2 separate regions of the Homo sapiens genome follow, and region 2 is linked to region 1. Evidence: fine-mapped expression QTL. A gene starts in region 1. The other region holds a variant in brackets. All regions are shown on one strand. Distances are from middle to middle. Region 1 holds the start of TOX4 (TOX high mobility group box family member 4). Region 2 has its middle 5.6 kb from the start of TRY-GTA5-4.

Region 1 (10,401 bases):
TCATTTACTTCTCTTAGCAACCCTGGGGCCGATATTATTATTCCCTTTTTTTTTTTCTTTTTTTTTTTGAGAGGGAGTCTCGCTCTGTTGCCCGGGCTGGAGTGCAGTGGCGCAATCTTGGCTCACTGCAACCTCCGCCTCCCAGGTTCAAGCAATTCTCCTTGCTTCAGCCTCCCAATTAGCTGGGATTACAGGCGCCCACCACCATGCCTGGCTAATTTTTTTGTATTTTTGGTAGAGATGGGTTTTCACTATGTTGGCTAGGCTGGTCTTGAACTCCTGACCTCATGACCCACCCGCCTCGGCCTCCCAAAGTGCTGGGATTACAGGCATGAGCCACCGTGCCTGGCTTATTATTTCCTTTTAAAAATGGGGAAAATGAGGCTCACACAAGTTTAATAAACGGCCCCAAATCATAAAGCTTATTAAGTGCTAGAGCCATAATTTAAACTTAGGATCTTAGTACTTCCTAGGACAAAAACTTGTCCTCTTAGCCACTATATCATATAACCTAAACTGGGGTTTGTAGGTGAGAAGAGAATTCCAGTATACTAACTCTAAGGTTAATTTTCCAACAACAGAAGAATCTCTTTCTATAAGAATCATAGAAACATGTGAGTGAGTTGCATAGCTGTTAGAGAATCAGAATCGGAAAATAAAAACTAATTCTGAAGTCCCCTGTCATAATACTAATAATATTTTAAGATTAAAAAAATACTTACAGTTTTATATTTACTCCCTAATGTCTTACGTTATTTGGGTCTTGTTTTCCTTTTAGCACTTACTTTTTCTCCTCTTCTGCTATGGTTGTAAGCCTCCCTCTACTTCCCTCACAGCCTACCAAGAACTAAAAGGGAAAGTTTGAGGGAGGCCCACATGATGGTTCAATCACATGGCAGCATTTATCTTTAGCAGCTGAAAATGCTATCAGTGGGTCATGAGAAAACCTTTTAAAATCAAATCACTCACCAGGCGCAGTGGCTCATGCCTGTAATCCCAGCACTTTGGGAGGCCAAGGCGGGCAGATCACGAGGTCAGGAGTTTGAGACCAGCCTGACCAACATGATGAAACCCCATCTCTGCTAAAAATACAAAAAAAAAAAAAAAAAAAAAAAAAAAAAAATAGGTGGGCGTGGTGGCGCACGCCTGTAATCCCAGCTACTCAGGAGGCTAAGGCAGGAGAACTGCTTGAGCCCGGGAGGCAGAGGCTGCAGTAAGCCAAGATGGCGCTATTGCACTCCAGCCTGGGCAACAGAGTGAGACTCTGTCTAAATTAAAAAAAAAAAAAAAATCACTCTACTTCATCTCATTCCAGTTCATGAGCCAAAGTTTGTGAACCAGTAAGCTAGAAAGAGTGAGCAGTTCAATTTGGTCTTGTCTATATCAGTCTCAGGTATCCTTGGCCATCCCCAGTAAAAAAATCTGAAGCAGCAGGCTGGGCACCGTGGGTCATGCCTATAATCCCAGCACTTTGGGAGGCCAAGGTGGGCAGATCATTTGAGCTCAGGAGTTTGAGACCAGCCTGGGCAACATGGTGAAACCACGCCTCTAAAAAAAATACAAAAAATTAGCCAGGTGTGATGGCACACATCTGTAGTCCCAGCTACTTGAGGGGCTGAGGTGGGAGGACTAGTTGAGCCGGGGAGGTTGAGGGTGCAATGAGTGGAGATGGTGCCACTGCACTCCAGCTTGGGTGACAGAGCAAGACCCTGTCAAAAAAAAAAAAAAAAGAAAAGAAAAGATGCAGCAGCAACGAACTAAGATGAAGGTTTTTTTTTCCTTTTTTTTTTTTGAGAGGGAGTCTCGCTCTGTTGCCCAGGCTGGAGTGCAGTGGCATGATCTTGGCTCACTGCAACCTCCGCCTCCCAGGTTCAAGTGATTCTCCTGCCTCAGCCTCCCCAGTAGCTGGCATTACAGGCGCCCGCCACCACACCTGGCTAATTTTTTTATTTTTAGTAGAGATGGGGTTTCACCATGTTGGCCAGGCTAGTCTCAAACTCCTGACCTCAGGTGATCCGCCTGCCTCAGCCTCCCAAAGTGCTGGAATTACAGGCATGAGCCACGACACCCGGCCTAGATGAAGGTTTGATAAGATAATTAATAGCTTTCTAATCTCTCCCAAGTGGAAGCATCATACTATATTAAGATATACAGTTTGAAGTATCAACTCCTAGAAAGTCAGATACACCATTTTCCTAAGAATCAAAATGCATTCCTTCCAATGAACGGTTTATTAAGGAAAAAAAAATTTTAATTGCATTCCAAAGTAAAATACAAACCAATTTGATATTATTTGATCAGTATTTTATATTACAGTAAAATACCTATTCATTAGCATGATTATTTAGGAATACGTGTATACACACACACACACGATTTTTTAAAATATGCTTCTCTAAATCCACATAAATGCCAGAACAAAGACAACAAAAACCTTTGGACAACCTGATCTCTTTAAAATACCTATCACAGTAATCCCTAAACATTTTCATGTAGGATGGGTTTGGAAGTAAGTGAGAGAATGGGTCAATAAAGTGGGAAGCTAAGATGGGTAAACAATGGGCAGGAGATCAGGGCTGACAACGGAGAAATGACCAGACTTACCCAAAAGGCGACAGACTAGATGGACACATTATTATACGTATGAATCTTTTAAAATTTTCAAAATATATAGAAAACCACAGTGTTCTGAAACTGGTTCCTTTTTATGATTTAGCAAATATTAATCTCAAGACAATTTTAAGAGGGAACAGAAAAGAACTAGGCCAGTTGGATGACCATGTAGTTCTTAAGGATTCTGTCCAAAGTCGTGGCTCTCAACTTTCCTTTTTTGTTTGTTTTTCTATGTATGCATTCTCAGCAGAATCAAGCTCTCAACTTTCTTACTTTCATGATCCAACCATGTCCCATATGAGTGCTTAAAAAAAAAAAAAAAAGGCCATTGCCATGACCATTCCATTAAATGGCACTTATTGGGTTTTTTTCCCCAGCATCAAAACATTCATCTGGGCCAGGTGCCAAGGCTCAGGCCTGTAATCCCAACACTTTGGGAGGCTGAGGAGGGCGGATCACTTGAGTCCAGGAATTCGAGACCAGCCTGGGAAACATGTTGAAACCCCCGTCTCTACAAAAAATACAAAAATTCCCCAGTGCAGGGGATCAGGGGATAGATCTGTAGAGATAGACGGATAGATGGATGGATAGACAGATGAACTTAAGCTTCAACTACTTTTAAGACATACACTTGCGTGTGGTGAGGAGCATTGGGGAGGGAAGGAGAGGAAAGGGAGGAAAAGAAAAAAGGAAAAATAATGTGTACACTGTTTGCAGATATAATGGCTTTAGCTCTCAGTTCAGAGAAGAAACAGAATCACATAGTAAGAAGTAAGCAAAAAAAGTAAGAGATTTTAGCCAAATATTATTTACTAGCTATTTACTAGCTCCCTTTAACTAGAATGGAGACTAAGGTATTATTTTACTTAGGGGGAAAAATGTACAAATCAAATGAGATAATGCACATGAAAGCAATTTATCTGGATAGGGCAAAACTACACTAAGCCAAGCTAAATTTTGGCATTACTACATGTATCAAATTTGAAAATATGTACAAGCTTTTGACAGAGTTTCCATTTCTGGGCAGATATTCCACAAAAATTCTCAAACATTGGCATAAAAACTTTGTAAATAAGGATGTTCAGGCTGGGCACTGTGGCTCACGCCTGTAATCCCAGCATTTTGAGAGGCCTAGGTGGGTGGATCACCTGAGGTCAGTTCAACACCGGCCTGGCCAACATGGCAAAACCCCATCTCTATTAAAAATACAAAAAACGTCCGGGAGTGGTGGCTCACACCTGTAATCCCGGCACTTTGGGAGGCTGAGGCGGGCGGATCACGAGGTCAGGAGATCGAGACCATGCTGGCTAACACGGTGAAACCCCCTCTCTACTAAAAATACAAAAAATTAGCCAGGCGTGGTGTCAGGCGCCTGTAGTCCCAGCTATTCGGGAGGCTGAGACAGGAGAATGGCACGAACCCGGGAGGCGGAGCTTGCAGTGAGCTGAGATCACGCCACTGCACTCCAGCCTGGGCAACAGAGTAAGACTCCGTCTCAGAAAAAAAATACAAAAAATACAAAAAACATTAGCCACGTGTGGTGGTGGGTGCCTGTAATCCCGGCTACTCAGGAGGCTGAGGCTGGAGAATTGCTTGAACCCAGGCGGTGGAGGTCGCGGTGAGCCAAGATTACGCCATTGCATTCCAGCCTGGGTGACAAGAGTGAATCTCTGTCTCAAAAAAAAGAATGCTCAGTGAAATTCTGCAATACTTAAAAATTGGAAAACAACCCAAATTTCTATCAGTAGGATGATGGTTACATAAATCATGCTACTGACATTCCATGACTACGCAGTGGTTAAAAGGAATGAGACAGATCTATATGTATTGATATGGAAAGGTCCCCACAACATAGAGATTGTTTAATATACAATCTAAGTCACACAACTAGGTCTACTCTGTCACGATTCTATACATGTAAACACTAATAAAAACAAAACTACTACCATATATTTCTATGTGTTTACATGTATGTATCTAAATGCATAGAAAAAGTCTGAAAGCATACACGTGGAATCATCAGTAATGATTTCCCTGCTAGAGTACCAACCAAGATGGGAAGGGAGAAAGAGTTTATGTATCAAAAGGGGACATTTACTTTCTATTCTATAAATTTATATTGTTTGATTTTATTTTTACTAGAATAAACTATTACTTGGATCGTTTACAACACAAAGATACAGCATCCAGAATTTGTAACTGTAACAGAATCAAAAACTTCTCTCTTTGATTTCACCTTTCCCCTACTTTATCCCCACCATTAGTTCCACCCTCATCGCCCCTTTCCTTTGCATCAGCTTTTCTTGTTATACTTGGATATTGGTCAGAGACTAAATTATTTTGTACTCTCACCGTATCCCAGATTTGCAGTTTGATTTGTTTTCCATCAATGTTGACCATACGAGCTCCAAACTCCACACCTGTCGGTAAAGACCGAGAGAAAGAATGTGATTCTCACGAACAGCAGCCACGTGGAGTGGGAGGTTCCTGCCTTTCCTCAATGTGTTATAACCATCCTTTGTCTGAACTCAATGCCACTAATTCCATTATTGCTGCCTATTTGCTCCAATTAATTTTGTGTTTCTTAAGGTTCTTCATTTCCCTTCTAGAATTAAAAAATTGTGCTCAATGACCTCAGGAATGTAACCAAAAAGCAGATATGGGAAAATAAAACCAATTAAGAAGTCAAATTTAAAAAGGTGAATACTTTTTTAGCAATGTTAGGTTAATGCTTAAATTTGGTTAGGTAACATTTAGTTTTGTAACTTTTCCAAAAAACTAAAAATTTTGGAAATATTTCCTGACACTTTCTCAGTCACTCTTTAGTCTCTACTTAAAACAATATTTATTTTTTTGCAATTCCAGATGTTTTTCTTTAAGAAAAGAGCCTAAGAAATAGGTTCTCAGAAACAATACTTTTTTTTTTTTTTTTTTGAGATGGAGTCTCGCTCCGTCACCCAGGCTGGAGTGCAGTGGTGCGATCTCAGCTCACTGCAGCCTCCACCTCCTGAGTTCAAGTGATTCTCCTGCCTCAGCCTCCCAAGTAAGTACCTTACAGGCACACGCCACAACGCCCACCTAATTTTTTTAACAATACATTTTACATTTCCAATAATTGCCAGAGGCACAATTAAGCATTGTTGCCTTGTTAAGCATTGTATCATTAGCCCCTATCGCAAAGTGAGAATTCGCTCAATATTCCCTTTAAAATACCTTTTAGTTGATACTGCCAAATCCTTTTCTAACCCCATCAATTATTTGACTCTAAATAAATCCGTTAGGAACAGTGGTAGCTTCAGGTTTCCATACAGGTGGGACTTGGAAGTAGCAATATGGTAAGAATGGGGATGTAGGGGTTTATTTAGAAACTGCATTTGCATGGCAAGAAAGCTAGTTTCATATATGTTGTTTATTTGGACTGGGGTTACGGAGATAACGAAGAGGGGGTAGTTAAAAGCCTCTTCAGGCCATGCCTTATCACAAACGTGTGGGAAAGGTTAATATTTTCCAGGATCGCCAGTGCGTTTGAGGAACTGTTAACACACTCTTTCATTTAAAAGGAAAGTTTTTAGTTTTATTTGCCTATTAATTCTAAGGCAGGGATGACTCCTCAATTTGCTTCTTCACCAATATAAAAAATGTCCATGTATTGGTGTTTACTTTTTAAAAGTAAGGCTGGTATTAATTTACCTCAAAGCACAGATGAGTTCATAAATAAGCAGTTATGCTTTCGTGGGATTTTCCATAAACATACAAATTGTATTTGAAAAAAAATTATATGACGAGTCTATACCTCACACTCTAAAAAGTTACCTTTCAATTATATACTCTCCCTTACACTACTCCCCACATATCAACGTTTCATTGGTCACTTCATTAACATAAGTTTGGACTAGTTTAAAGTAGTGAGGGGTAACTTTTTACTTCGAACACTGAAGGCTGCTAACTTTCCACTTTAGCAATTTAGCTAGTCAGGTTTTATCATCTGTTCTGGAACAAGTAGATGCACTTACCTATTGTGAGGTCGTGGACAGGCTGGAACCGCTTATCTGTAAACTGCAGGAGGAGACATGACTTCCCCACACCTGAAAGAGAAAGCACACTCCCGGAATCACGCAGCCCTGGAACACCTTCCAGAGTATGGACTTCCCGGACCAGAGAAGGGGGGCTCCCGAGCCCCGCCCCCGGCCGCCCCGAACCGCCCCGCCCGTCTCGAATCGCCCAGCCCACAAAGTGAGCCCCGCCCCCGCCACCCAATTTGGGAGCTTCGAATGCCCGCCCGAGCCTTGAAGGCGAACCACCTGAGGGTTACCTGTGTCTCCGATGATGATATACTTGAAGAGATAAGCATAAGTCATGGTGTCGCGTCCTCTGGGTTCCGGGTCCGCCCGACTTCTATAGCCACTTACCTCCGACCTCTCTAGCCACTCAATCTACCGATCTTCTTCTTCTCCCCCTTCCCCCCGCTCCCCCGCCCCTCCGGCTCCTCTAGCCCAGATCACGTCTCTATTGCACTCCCCGGAATCATCCTTAGGTCGGGAGTACCCTACGCCACCTCCAGGGACGCTTCTAGCACTTCTACATGCCCTTATCCCTCCAAACTCCAGGGGGCGATAGCCCAGCGCCTGACTCTCTGCAGCCCCACGGCGCTCCTTCCAATCAGCAGAGAGAACACACGTCCTTGCGGAAGTGACGGCAGTTCCGAGTCCAGTGGGGGCGGTGGGAGCGATGAGGGTCTGAGACGGTGGGAGCGGTTGTGTGAAGATGGAGGTAGGAACCTGATAGCTAAGAAGGCTGGCGAGAGAACGCGGCCGACCGGGTTGAAGCAGGGACGGGAAGCCGGGCGGAGAGGCGACTGACGGGAGAGGAGAGAGAGCGGGGTTTGGGGAGTGTTGTCAGAATGTCAGGGTCAAAAGCCATCGCTCCAAGCTGACTCCCTGCTCCCCCTAACTTATCCCCGCGACTTTCTTTTGGTTTCCAGTTTCCCGGAGGAAATGACAATTACCTGACGATCACAGGGCCTTCGCACCCCTTCCTGTCAGGGGCCGAGGTGAGCCAGAGCTGCCGACGCCGCGGGGGTAGGGCCTGAGGCAGCGGTGGGGTAGGGTAGTGGGGAGGAGAGCACGGACTCCGGGGACGGGGGCTGGGAACCAAGGGCCGCAATTGGTGTTTAGAGAAAAGTGGCGGTTGCTTCTAGAGCCTGTGGGGACTATCTGGGGAAGTCTTGGGAAGTTGCTGTCATCAGAAAGCAAGGTATTGGAAAGAGATAACCTGTTTAAAGAGAAAAGGGATTCTGGATTAGAAGACAGAGTGGAATTGTCTCCTTTCTCTGGGGAGAAATAGCTACAGTAATCTTAGGGGATCGCAGTGGAAAGAAAATGTTTCAGCAGCTGAAGAAATTGGGGTTGAGGGGAGGAGCTTATTGGTTTTCTTTTGTTTTGAGACAGAGTCTCGCTTTATCGCCCAGGTTGAAGTGCAGTGGTGCGATCTCGGCTCACTGCAACCTCTGTCTCCTGGGTTCAAGCGATTCTCCTGCCTCAGCCTCCCGAGTAGCTGGGATTACAGGCGTGCGCCACCACGCTCGGCTAATTTTTGTATATTTAGTAGAGATGGCAGTTTCACCATATTGGCCAGGCTGGTTTCGAACTCCTGACCTCAGGTGATCCACCCACCTCGGCCTCCCGGAGTGCTGGGATTACAGGCCTGAGCCATTGCGCCCGGCCTAAATTTCCTACTTTGATAAAAAATTTGTGGTTACCTTTACCTACATGGTGTCAGCTTGTTTTGCTAATGTCAGGAGGAAAGGAAATAGCTGCTAGAGAATATAAAAGAGTTGAGTAGGACATGTGTTTCAATTTGCCAGTGACTCAGACGTTGGGCACATTACTTCATCTTTGTATGTCACAGTTTCCCCAGCTGTCAAACAGCTGTAATTATAGTTTCTTATGCTGTTTTAAAGTAGAAGTAAAGGTTATGATGAAACCCTGAAGTGTTCGTTAAAAAAGTTTGGTTGAAATATTGTCATAATATAGATATGTATCACTTGTTTGGGAGAGGCAAAAGAGAATGGTGGAACAGACAAAAATTTCTGTCTTTGAGAAACTGAAGTCTTGAACCATCTGCCATTTTTTGAGGACTTTTATATTTATTTTCAAAAGTGGTGTGGACCATTTGCATCAGTTTTTTTTACCAAGAATTGTCAGTGGCTGTTGCATGGGCTTATCCTATAATCCTAACGTTTTCATGGATGAAAATGGGGTTGACAAGGGCCAGTTGCTAGTTTAACTTTTTTTTTCTTTCTTTTTTTTTTTGAGACAGTCTCCCTGTAGCCCAGGCTGGAGTGCAGTAGCACGATCTTGGCTCACTGCAGCCTCCACCTCCTGGGCTCAAGTGATTCTCCTGCCTCAACCTCCCAAGTAGCTGGGAATACAGGTGTGCGCCACCACACCCAGCTAATTTTTTTTTTTTTTTTGAATTTTTGTAGAGACGGGGTTTCACCCTGTTACCCAGGCTCTTTAACTCCTGGCCTCAAGTGATCTGCCCGCCTCAGCCTCCTAAAGTGCTAGGATTACAGGCATGAGCCAATGTGCCCAGTGCCAGTTTAACTTTTTTGTTGCTTTTATTTATTATTCTCATAAGCAGGATAAGTGTGAATCTAGTATGCAGCAAACTTTGAAATGATATAAAACCTAAATCTGGGCCCAGCACAGTAGCTCGTGCCAGTAATCCCAACTGTTTGGGAGGCTGAGGCAGGAGAATTGCATGAGCCCAAGAGTTCTAGACCAGCTTGGGCAACGTGATCAAACTCTGTCTCTATAAAAGATAATAATAATTAATTTTAAAAAAACAGGTGAGGCGGGGTGCGGTGGCTCATGCCTGTAATCCCAGCACTTTGGGAGGCCAAGGAGGGCGGATCACGAGGTCAGGAGTTCGAGACCAGCCTGACCAACATGTGAAACCCCATCTCTACTAAAAATACAAAAATTAGCCGGGTGTGGTGGTGCGCGCCTGTAATCCCAGATACTCAGGAGGCTGAGGCAGGAGAATCGCTTGAACCTGGGAGGCAGAGGTTGCAGTGAGCCGAGATTGCGCCATTGTACTCCAGCCTAGGTGAACGAGTGAGACTCCATCTCAAACAAACAAACAAAAACAGCTAAAATCTGCTTGGTGCTTTGCACTCTTAGTTGCCATTTTCTTCTAAGTGAGATCTTCATTTTTAAATTTCATTATTTGAGTGTTGCAAATCTCACATTGGACTTACCTGCATGAAATTCCCAATTTCTCCTCAATCAGGTCTCCACAGTTTAAATTTTGTTATTTAGAGTGTTATAAATTTTACGTTGGCCTCGTTCATGAGAAAGTGCATTTTAAAATTAAATACAAGTAGCTTTCAAGTTTACCCACTGTTCTTAATTCTCTACCCCATTTATGAAGTTGAACAATCAAGAGGTAGCCACATTTAAAAAAGTGGTTCCTTTTTGCTTTTGCTTTTGTTTTTAATAGAGACAGGATCTCACCATGTTGTCCAGGCTGGTCTCAAATTCCTAGGCTCAAGCGATCCTCCCACCTTGGCCTCCCAAAGTACTAGTATTGTAGGTGTGAGCCACCATGCCAGGACAGAAGTGGTTCCTTTTCACATCAAGAAACTTCCCATGAAGAATCATGGTGTATAGTGAAGAAAAGTAAATTTAAAGTATTAACAAGTAATATTATAATAAAAAAGAAAGAAACTTTCCAGGTTTGAATCTGTCCTTTGTTTTTGTTTTTGTGACTTAAGAAATCTTATTT
Region 2 (10,401 bases), 810 kb before region 1:
AAGCTTCTGGGTGGGCGGCCGCTATCCGCAGACCAGCTGCAGGGTCTGCTGAAAGTCCTTAAGCAGCCCTTTCCTAAAACTCTGGCCTTCCTACTCCCTTCCCGGCCAACACACACATGCCCCTTCTCCCGATGTGCCTCCGCCCTTTTCCCTACAGTGTCCTATGCTTGCTTTTTGGCGCATTCAAGTGTGCTAGAAGTGAGAGAGAGAACAAATGGGACTAGGTGAGAAGAACTCGCCCAGGGCTTGCAGATGCACTGTGATACCCTCCTTCCTCCCCAGCGCCCAACTGGGGCTTGGCTTCCCTCCTCTGCAAACTGACCAAGAACTCTTTTTTTTTTCTCCCCCAGAGGCTTCCTCTTTCTGAAGTAGGGCAAGTATATTAGTCCGTTTTCATGCTGCGGATAAAGACATACCCGAGACTGGGATGAAAAAGAGGTTTAATTGGACTCACAGTTCCACATGCCTAGGGGGCCTCAGAATCATGGCTGGAGGTGAAAGGCACTTCTTCTTCTTCTTCTTCTTCTTCTTCTTTTTTTTTTTTTTTTTTTGAGATGGAGTTTCACTCTCGTTGCCCAGGCTGGAGTGAAATGGCGCGATCTCAGCTCACCGCCACCTCCGCCTCCCAGGTTCAAGCGATTCTGCCGCCTCAGCCTCCGGAGTAGCTGGGATTACAGGTATGCGCCGCCACGCCCGGCTAATTTTGCATTTTTAGTAAAGACTTGGGGTTTCTCCATGTTGGCCAGGCTGGTCTTGAACTCCCGACCTTAGGTGATCCACCCTCCTCGGCCTCCCAAAGTGCTGGGATTACAGGCGTGAGCCACCCCTCCTGTCCAAGGCACTTCTTACATGGCAGAGGCAGGAGAAAATAAGAGAGAAGCAAAAGCGGAAACCCCTGGTAAACCCATCAGATCTTGTGAGACTTATTCACTATCCTGAGAATAGCACTGGAAAAACTGGCCCCCGTGATTCAATTATCTCCCCCTGGTCCCTCTCACAACACGTGGGAATTTTGGGAGATACAATTCAAGTTGAGATTTGGGTAGGGACACAGCCAAACAGTATCATTCCGCCCCTGGCCTCTCTAAATCTCATGTCCTCACATTTGAACACCAATTATGCCTTCCCAACAGTCCCCCAAAGTCTTAACTCATTTCAGCGTTAACCCAAAAGTCCACAGTCCAAAGTCTTATCTAAGACAAGGAAAGTCCCTTCTGCCTATGAGCCTGTAAAATCAAAAGCAAGCTCGTTACTTCCTAGACACAATGGGGGTACAGGTATTGGATAAATACAGCCATTCCAAATGGGAGAAATTTGCCAAAACGAAGGAGTTACAGAGCCCATGCAAGTCCGAAATCCAGCAGGGCTGTCAAATTTTAAAGCTTCAAAATGATCTCCTTTGACTTCAGGTCTCACATCCAGGTCACACTGATGCAAGAGGTGGATTCCCATGGTCTTAGGCAGCTCCACCCCTGTGTCTTTGAAGGATACAGCCTCTCTCCAAGCTGCTTTCCTGGGCTGGCCTTGAGGGTCTGCAGCTTTTCCAGGTGCACGGTGCAAGCTGTCAGTGGATCTACCATTCTGGGGTCTGGAGGATAGTGGCCCTCTTCTCACAGCTCCACTAGGCAATGCCCCAGTAGGGACTCTGTGTGGGGGCTCTGACCACACATTTCCCTTTCACATTGTCCTAGCAGAGGTTCTCCATAAGGGCCCCACCCCTGCAGCAAGCTTTTGCCTGGGCATCCAAGCGTTTCCATACTCTTCTGAAATCTAGGAGGAGGTTCCCAAACCTCAATTCTTGACTTCTGTGCACCCGCAGGCTCAACACCACATGGAAGCTGCCAAGGCTTGGGGCTTCCACCCTCTGAAGCTACCGCCCAAGCTGTATGTTAGCCCCTTTCAGCCACAGGGGGAGCAGCTGGGACACAGAGCACGGAGTTCCTAGGCTGCACACAGCACTAGGACCCTGGGCCCGGCCCACGAAACCACTTTTTCCTCCTGGGCTTCTGGGCCTGTGATGGATGGGAGGGGCTGCCGTGGTGGTCTCTGACATGGCCTGGAGACATTTTCCCCATGGTCTTGGGGATTAACATTAGGCTTCTTGCTACTTGTGCAAATTTCTGTAGCCAGTTTGAATTTCTCACCAGAAAATGGGTTTGGGTTTTTCTTTTCTATCACATAGTCAGGCTGCAAATTTTCCAAACTTTTATGTTCTGCTTCCTATATAAAACTGAACGCCGCCGGGCGTGTTGGCTCACGCCTGTAATCCCAGCACTTTAGGAGGCCGAGGCGGGCGGATCACAAGGTCAGGAGATCAAGGCTAACATGGTGAAACCCCGTCTCTACTAAAAATACCAAAAAAAAATTAGCCGGGCGTGGTGGCGGTCACCTGTAGTTCCAGCTACTCGGAAGGCTGAGACAGGAGAATGGTGTGAACCCAGGAGGCAGAACTTGCAGTGAGCCGATATCGCGCCACTGCACTCCAGCCTGGGCGACAGAGCAAGACTCCATCTCAAAAAAAAAAAAAAACCAAAACTGAATGCCTTTAACATACCCAAGTCACCTCTTGAATGCTTTGCTGCTTAGAAATTTCTTCTGCCAGGTACCCTAAATCATCTTACTCAAGTTCAAAGTTCCACAAATCTTTAGGGCAGAGGCAAAATGCTGTTAATTTCTTTGCTAAAACATAACAAGAATAATCTTTGCTCCAGTTCCCAACAAGTTCCTTATCTCCATCTGAGACCACCTCAGCCTGCATTTTATTATCCATATCACTATCAGCATTTTGGGTAAAGTCATTCAACAAGTCTCTAAGAAGTTCCAAACTTTCCCACATTTCCGTGTCTTCTTCTGAACCCTCCAAACTGTTCCAATCTATGCCTGTTACCCAGTTCCAAAGTCACTTCCGCATTTTTGGGTATCTTTTCAGCAATGCCGCACTCTACTGGTACCAATTTACTGTATTAGTCCATTTTCACGCTGCTGATAAAGACATACCCCAGAGTGGGATGAAAAAGAGGTTTAATTGGACTTACAATTTCACATGGCTGGGGAGGCCTCAGAATCATGGTGGGAGGCAAAAGGCACTTCTTACATGACAGTGGCAGGAGAAAATGAAAGAGAAGCAGAGCAGAAACCCCTGATAAACCCATCAGATCTCGTGAGACTTATTCACAAGAATAGCACAGGAAAGACTGGCCCCCATGATTCAATTACCTCCGCCTGGGTCCCTCCCACAACACGTTGGAATTTTGGGAGATACAATTCAAGTTGAGATTTGGGTGGGGACACAGCCAAGCCATATCAGCAAGGTTCTGTGGGTTTCTTGGAAAAAAAAAAAAAAAAACAAAATAAACAAACAAAAAAATGGTGGCAGAGTACAGAGGTGTGAGTTTCTCCTGACACCACATCTTTGGCAAAGGTTTCAGATCCCATCTGCTGTATGCCCACCACCCCAAGACCACGGAGACACCCACCCCCCTGCTGAACACCTAGTGGGGGTACAGCAAGCCACCCCAAGGGACCTAGCATCCATTGAGTTTAAGTCCACTCCCTGTCTTATGCTAAGTGGGTCTGAATGGCCAAAGGTGAGAGTCAGATGCATGAACACCCCTTGCTACTCTGTCATGTCCCAGACTGGAAAAGTGGGCATCTGGGGTTCACCCTCGCTTGTGCTGGTCACCAAAGCCCACTACCTGGCCCCCTTCTGCTTTTGCCCTCAAAACACCAAACTGAGGTTTCAGAGGACCTGTACCTCCATGTCCCATCAGGAACATATCTAATGAAGACCTAAGGTGCTACCTTTGGTCCCTGTTCACTGGTCTCTGTTTTTGGTGTCACTGGAGACTGGGGTCTCTCTGCAGCTCCACAGCCATACAATCGTCTCAGAGCACTGGTGAATCCACAGCTTGGCTCCTTTCCACTAGCAGTGAGAAGTGGGAAAGATTGACACAGCCGGGGGAACGTGAGGGGAATAGGCAGTGTTGGGGGAGACCGTCTGCTGCTTTCCAGGAGAAGAAGACACATACAGTCTCCAGATTGAGACCCACAATGAAGCAGTTCTTGTGGCCACAGAGGGTAGGGGAGGGCAGGGACCCAGTCCTCAAAGGGCTTCAGAGGGCCATGCTCCCATGGACCACTGGGCTTAGAGTGCTCTCTGTGATAGGTTGCATCTGTACACCAAGTGTCTGATGCACATTTTTCTGAGATCTTGGGATGAGACCAAGGGACACTCATTGGCTTTCTTCTCTGCCCCATACCCACAAAACCCACTGCATCTCCACAGATATGAAGCTCCACTGGTTGGTGAAAGCCCAGTCCATTTTCTGCTCCATCCTCTCTGACTGGGCTTCAACATATTTTTCTCAGAGGTAGGAGAGCCCAACTGTGCTGCTAGATCCTAGTGCAAAAGGTCCAAACTGCTCAGACCCACCAGGCAGTGGCCTTTCTAAGGAGGTGAATTTGTGTGCCGCTGTATGATGACAGATGTCACTCAAGTTTCACTTCTGTTTCCTGTCATAGACCAACAATCCCCAACTCTCCCAAGTCACTGAAGCTCTTTTCAGGCCTGCCATTTTGTACTTCCTTCCTGCTCTCACAGCCTCCTAAGTGGCAGGTGTTTTTGACATCTTTGAACTAAGCGGTGAGTGTTAGGTATTCTTACTCTTCCAGCAGGAGCCAAGCCCAGCTGTAGCAAAATAAAAAGATGTGAAGACTCAGGAAAGGTGAGGCTTGAGGGATTTAGGACAGGGGTGAGTGGGTAGACACACCATGTCCTCATCCCATGGGGCAACCTGACCTTGCCAATGGAGGTTCTTTGCCTTAGAAAATTCTCAGGGTGGCTGCTGTCTCCCCAAGTAGACACAACATAGCAAGGATGAGCATTTTCTGTCTGTATGAGTCTATACATTTCCGGCAAAGGAGAATGAGAGAGACACAGAGTGCTAGGGAGAAGGGGCAGAGACAGACAGAGAGAAATATACACAGACAGAGAGAGAAATTGTGAAAGAGAGAGAGAGAATGAGATACAGACAGAGGTGAGGTAGTAATAGCTCAGGAAGGAAATGAGGGGGAGAGGGTGAGTTCACGGATGGTATCATGGTTGTCCTCGACCCTACACTGTTGTCCTGAATGCTTGATGGTCTCCTGGGAGCTTGGCTTTCCAGGGTTTGCCAACCTGGTCAGGAGAGCTTGGTCACAGATGAATCCAGCTGTGTTGCCAGATTCCCCAGCAGTGCTTAGGTCCAAAAGCACCCTGTGAATAAAAATGAAGCAGCCCTGAGATGGTAAGGGTTCGGATGGGGGATTGGCTGGGTCACAAAGCAGAAGTAAGGGGCACTTTGCACTGAAGTGTACTGGCAACAGCACAGGCATGGCAAGCTAGGTAATCTGGATAAGGCTTTGCTGGGTTTTGCCTGGGAGAGTGTGGCGACAGCAGGGC[G/A]TTTGACCAGGCAGAGGTGCAGCCAGGGAGCACTGGTGTGTGTACAAAAGACTCAGACACTTCCCTCAAGCAGGAATTGAACCAGCAACCTAAGGATGTCCACAGATGTGTACAGTCCTCCACTCTATCAGCTGATCTCTCAAAGAGCACACAAAGTTAGAGCTGGGTCACTGGACTTTCTGCAAATGGAGGACACCAAGTCCCTGGAATGCCAGAGGTCCAATATGTGTTGGGTTGGTTGGAACCTGCCTTGGAAGAGAACCCTGCGCTCTTGTTGCCCAGGATGGAGTGCAATGGCACAATCTTGGCTTACTGCAACCTCCACCTCCCAGGTTCAAGCAATTCGCCTGCCTCAGCCTCCCGAGTAGCTGGGATTACAGGCATGTGCTGCCATGCCTGGCTAATTTTGTATTTTTAGTAGAGACTTGGGGTTTCTCCATGTTGGTCAGGCTGATCTCGAACTCCTGACCTCAAGTGATCTGCCTGCCTCGGCCTCCCAAAGTGCTGGGATTACAGGCGTGAGCTACTGTGCCCAGCCCGGAATAAAACAGTTTTACTTCTTCCTTTAAACATGGATGGCTTCCATTTTTATTTTTTTGCATTACTGTTCAAGAATCTCCACACATTGCTGATGATAGTGATGAAAGCAGATGTCCTTGCTTGTCCTAATCTCACAGGGAAATCATTCAGTCTTTCATCATTAAGTGTATTGTTAGCTGAAAGTTTTTCATACGTGCCCTTTATCAGATTGAGAAAAGGCCCTTCTATTTCTAATTCGCTGAGTTTATATGAGAAGCGAATGTGTAGCGGGCATTGGTGGCTCATGTCTATAATCTAAGCGCTTTGGAAAGCCAAGATGAGAGGATCACTTTAGCCCAGGAGTGCAAGACCAACGTGGGCAACAAAGTGAGAACCCGCCTTTATGAAAAATTTTAAAACATTATCAGGGCGCCAGGCGCAGTGGCTCACGCCTGTAATCCCAGCACTTTGGGAGGCTGAGGCGGGAGGATCACCTGAGGTCAGGAGTTCCAGACCAGCCTGGCCAACATGGTGAAACCCCATCTCTACTAAAAATACAAAAAAATTAGCCAGGTGTGGTGGTGGGAGCCTGTAATCCCAGCTACTCGGGAGGCTGAGGCAGGAGAATCACTTGAATTTGGGAGGCGGAGGTTGCAGTGAGATCGCACCTCTGCACTCCAGCCTGGGCAACAAAGAGCGAAACTCCATCTCAAAGAAAAAAAAAAACGAAAATAAAGAAAAAGATATTATCAGGGCATGGTGGCACACACTGGTAGTCCCAGCTACTCAGGAGGCTGAGGCAGGAAGATCACTTGAGCCTAAGAAGTTGAGGCTGTAGTGAGCTATGGTTGTGCCACTGCCCTTCAGCTTGGGGGACAGAGGGAAACCCTCATCTCTAAAAATATAAGTAAGCAATAAATAAACAAATGTGAAATTGTGACAAATGTTTTGTCTACATCTTTTGATATAATCATGTTTTTCTTTTTAATATAATATAGTTTGTTAATATAATAAATTACATTGATTAATTTTGAATATCAAACCAAATTTGCTTTTCTGGGATAAATCCCCCTTGATTCTGATGTATCATTATTTTATATACTGTTGGATTCAACTCGCCGAAGTTATGTTAAACTTTTTGGCTTCCATGTTCTTAAGAGACACTGACCTGTAGTTTTCTTTCTTTTGAAGTATCTTTGCTTTTAATATCAGAATACACTGTCCTCATGTAAAGAGTTGAGAATTATTATCTCCTCTCCAGTTTTGCTGCAAGAAGTTGTGTAGAATTGTCATTATTCCTGAAACATTTATTAAAATTCACCAGTGAAGTTATCTGAGCTTGGTAAATACATCCCAGAGCATAAAAACTGAAGCAACTGGAGCCCCAGTGAGGCTAGAACTCACACCTTTGTTACAGCCTGGCGCATTAACCCTTGACTTGCTGACCTTACTATTTTACTCTTCTAGGAGACATCTTCATTTTGTTGATCCACAACCAAGAAAACTAACAGAAGGAAAAAGGAATAGATATTTGTCTCTAGGCTCAAGCAATTGCAACCCTCCTCCCAAAGTCATCATACAAGAAGACAAGGCCCCAGGCCAGACCAGGAATACAATCTGCATAAATGTTGTCTGGACAAAGCCCTTGCCCCCATCCCCCTCCTGATTTTTCCTGCATGGCACTTGTCAGAAAAAGGAAAATCTGAAAGAACAATGTTTAAAAGTGGCCCAAGATGGCTGCAGGTTGAGCATATAGGTAATAGAAACTAGACCTATGAACTAAAGCTGAACTCTAGCCTGAAAGGCTAAAGTTTGTCTTTTTTTGTCTTTTTTTTTTTTTTTGAGACAGAGTCTTGCTCTGTTGCCCAGGCTGGAGTGCAGTGGCATGATTTCGGCTCACTGCAACCTGCTGCCTCCTAGGTTCAAGTGATCCTCCTGCCTCAGCCTCCCAAGTAGCTGGGACTATAGGCACACACCACCATGTCTGGCTACTTTTTGTATTTTTTTTTTTTTTTTTAGCAGAGTCAGGGTTTTGCCATGTTGGGCAAGCTGGTCTCAAACTCCTGACCTCAGGTAACCACCTACGTCTGCTTCCCAAAGTTCTGGGATTACAGCCGCGAGCCACCACACCCAGCCATGTCAAATGTTTTCACTGATGTCTACTGATTGTAACCTTGCCTAGCAGATGAAGCACAAAGGCAGTGTCAACTGAAAAGTGACATAACAGGCACTTGAACTTAAAGAAGTCATGGTTAGATTTATTCTCAGCCAAGTTTGAGGAGTTATGCCTGAGAACACAGACTTAGAATAGACCTACAATAGGTCCCAAAGTAGTTTACATGAGGCACAGTATACTTAAATTTTCTAACGGGGATGTGTGTGGCACAGGAGGGAGAAGTGGTTAATGAAACAGTGGTTACATTGTTGTGATTCTGATGAGTGCTCAGTGATGCCATACATAAGGTAAATATACAGTTGAGTGAGTAGGGAGAAAGGCTAAGCATCTTAGAGTCTGGTGGAGGAAGGGTGACTAATTCCATTCTGTCTTTGTTCTACATCTGATAAACAGGTTCATGGCCAGCCCCTGTCAACAAACTCCAGTTACACAGGCAAGAGATCAGCTTTAGTTTATAGGCCTGGGTTTTATTACCCATATGCCCAACTGCAGCCATTGTGGGCCCATATTAACATTTTATTTGAATTTTCCTTTTTCTAACAGCAAGATAACATCAGTCATTCCCCTCCAAACCCTAAGATGCGTACATACTCCTTTACTTGTTACCCTATCCCTATATATGTTAACCACACTTTTGGTTTGTCTGTGAATACCATCACTAAACATCAGTCAAAACTGTAAAAATGTCACCTTTGCTTCACTGCCCCCTTCTTTGATTTTTTATTTAGAAAAAACATGTAAATACCGTGCCTCATGTAACCCACTCTGGGACACATTCTCAGTTTGCACTGTTTGTGTTCCAGGCTACGGTTCTCAACTTGGTTTGGGACAAAATTAATTTTGATTTCTTTAAGTCCATAGTGCCTATTATTTTAACCTTTTGGCTTGACACACTGGGGAAACATGGGCCCACTATGACTACTTTGTCTCTCCTGACCTGGAAAATTAGTATCAGTGCAGACTGCCTGAGACCTTCGCTAGACCCAGATTCCCCACCGCCAGCAATCTCCCCAGTTTCTCAGTAGAAGCTATGAGAAGAGTGCAGCTGGTGAAACCACCTTTACAAAAATTATAACAGTGAAAGAAGTCTGATGTAACCAACTCCATCTTTTTTTTTTTTTTTTTCCGAGACGGAGTCTTGCTCTGTTGCCCAGGCTGGAGTGCAGTGGCGCAACCTCGGCTCGCTGCAACCTCCGCCTCCCGGGTTCAAGCGATTCTCCTGCCTCAGCCTCCCGAGTATCTAGGATTACAGGCGTGCACCACTACGCTCGGCTAATTTTTGTATTTTTTAATAGAGATGGGTGTTCACCATGTTGGCCAGGCTGGTCTCCACCTATTGACCTCAAGTGATCTGCCCGCCTTGGCCTCCCAAAGTGCTGGGATTACAGGCGTGAGCCACCGCACCCGGCTACCAACTCGATCTTGCTTCTAACCTCCAAGCTTCCTTTGCTCATTTCTGGGCGTATGCCAAGCAAACCACGGGAGGAATTTAGTTTGTAGTTTAACTTTCAGACAAACATGACAACAGCCCCTTCATGAAGCAAACCCCCTCCTTGCTTGGGGGTCAGACCTCCTTTGTAAAAGCAACAACTTAGCCCACAGTATTAGAAATTATGGCTCAGGAGTCATATAGCCAGAGGCCACAAGATCCTAACCTCCTCAATTGCTCCTATAGATAACATTATTATTGTAAAAATCTAAGATTGCTGTTCTAGGTATTTTTCAGACTCTGCATTCTGAATGGATCAGCTGGCGTCACCGAGATCGATAAACTGGCCCCCTCTCAGGAACTGACTCAGTGAAAGAAGGCAAGCTCCGACTCCCTGTGATTTTATCTCTGACCTAACTAATCAGCATTCCCCTGCCTGCCCAAATGTTGCGGGACTTTTCTTTAGTTCAGCTCAAGACAGAGTTCTTTGTCCCACGGCCACGAAAATTCAGGCTCGCAGACAATTGGAATGGTGAGTAAGACAGGGTTTTATTGGGTGAAAAAGGAAGAAAAGGGGGACTCTGCTAGGCCAGAGTCCCTGCTAGAGCACTTGCCGCCCAGGCTTTCAAATCCCAGGCTCCTCCCAGGAAGAGATGGGGCCAGGCTCCTCCTCGCTGCGAATGGCACTAACTTCCCGAGGTTCCACCCCAGTGCGCATTCGTCCCAGTGCGCAGGCTGGTCGGGGAGTCTGCGGGGACCCCCTTCCACCTGGCTGTCTCACAACTATCCTTGAAAAACCCTAGCCTCGACCGGACGCGGTGGCTCACGCCTGTAATC

What was found. PIP is the estimated chance that this variant, and not a neighbour inherited with it, causes the effect.
Region 2: its variant is fine-mapped to the expression of TOX4 in hippocampus (GTEx, PIP 0.97).

What each region holds. Positions count from the first base shown.
Region 1 is chr14:21,469,902-21,480,302 of GRCh38, forward strand. It overlaps TOX4 (TOX high mobility group box family member 4), which reads left to right and starts at 7,294. Exons shown (of 9, transcript NM_014828.4): 1 at 7,294-7,383; 2 at 7,595-7,663. The coding sequence starts at 7,378. RAB2B (RAB2B, member RAS oncogene family) reads right to left here and starts at 7,058. Exons shown (of 8, transcript NM_032846.4): 1 at 6,926-7,058; 2 at 6,627-6,698; 3 at 4,966-5,033. The coding sequence starts at 6,971. RefSeq lists enhancers at 6,475-6,594, 7,175-7,244.
Region 2 is chr14:20,663,674-20,674,074 of GRCh38, forward strand. No RefSeq gene overlaps it. Among named protein-coding and RNA genes, the nearest start is that of TRY-GTA5-4, 5.6 kb to the left of the region's middle. RefSeq lists enhancers at 3,048-3,157, 4,296-4,635, 5,286-5,475. The variant G/A (reference allele first, on the strand shown) is at 5,441.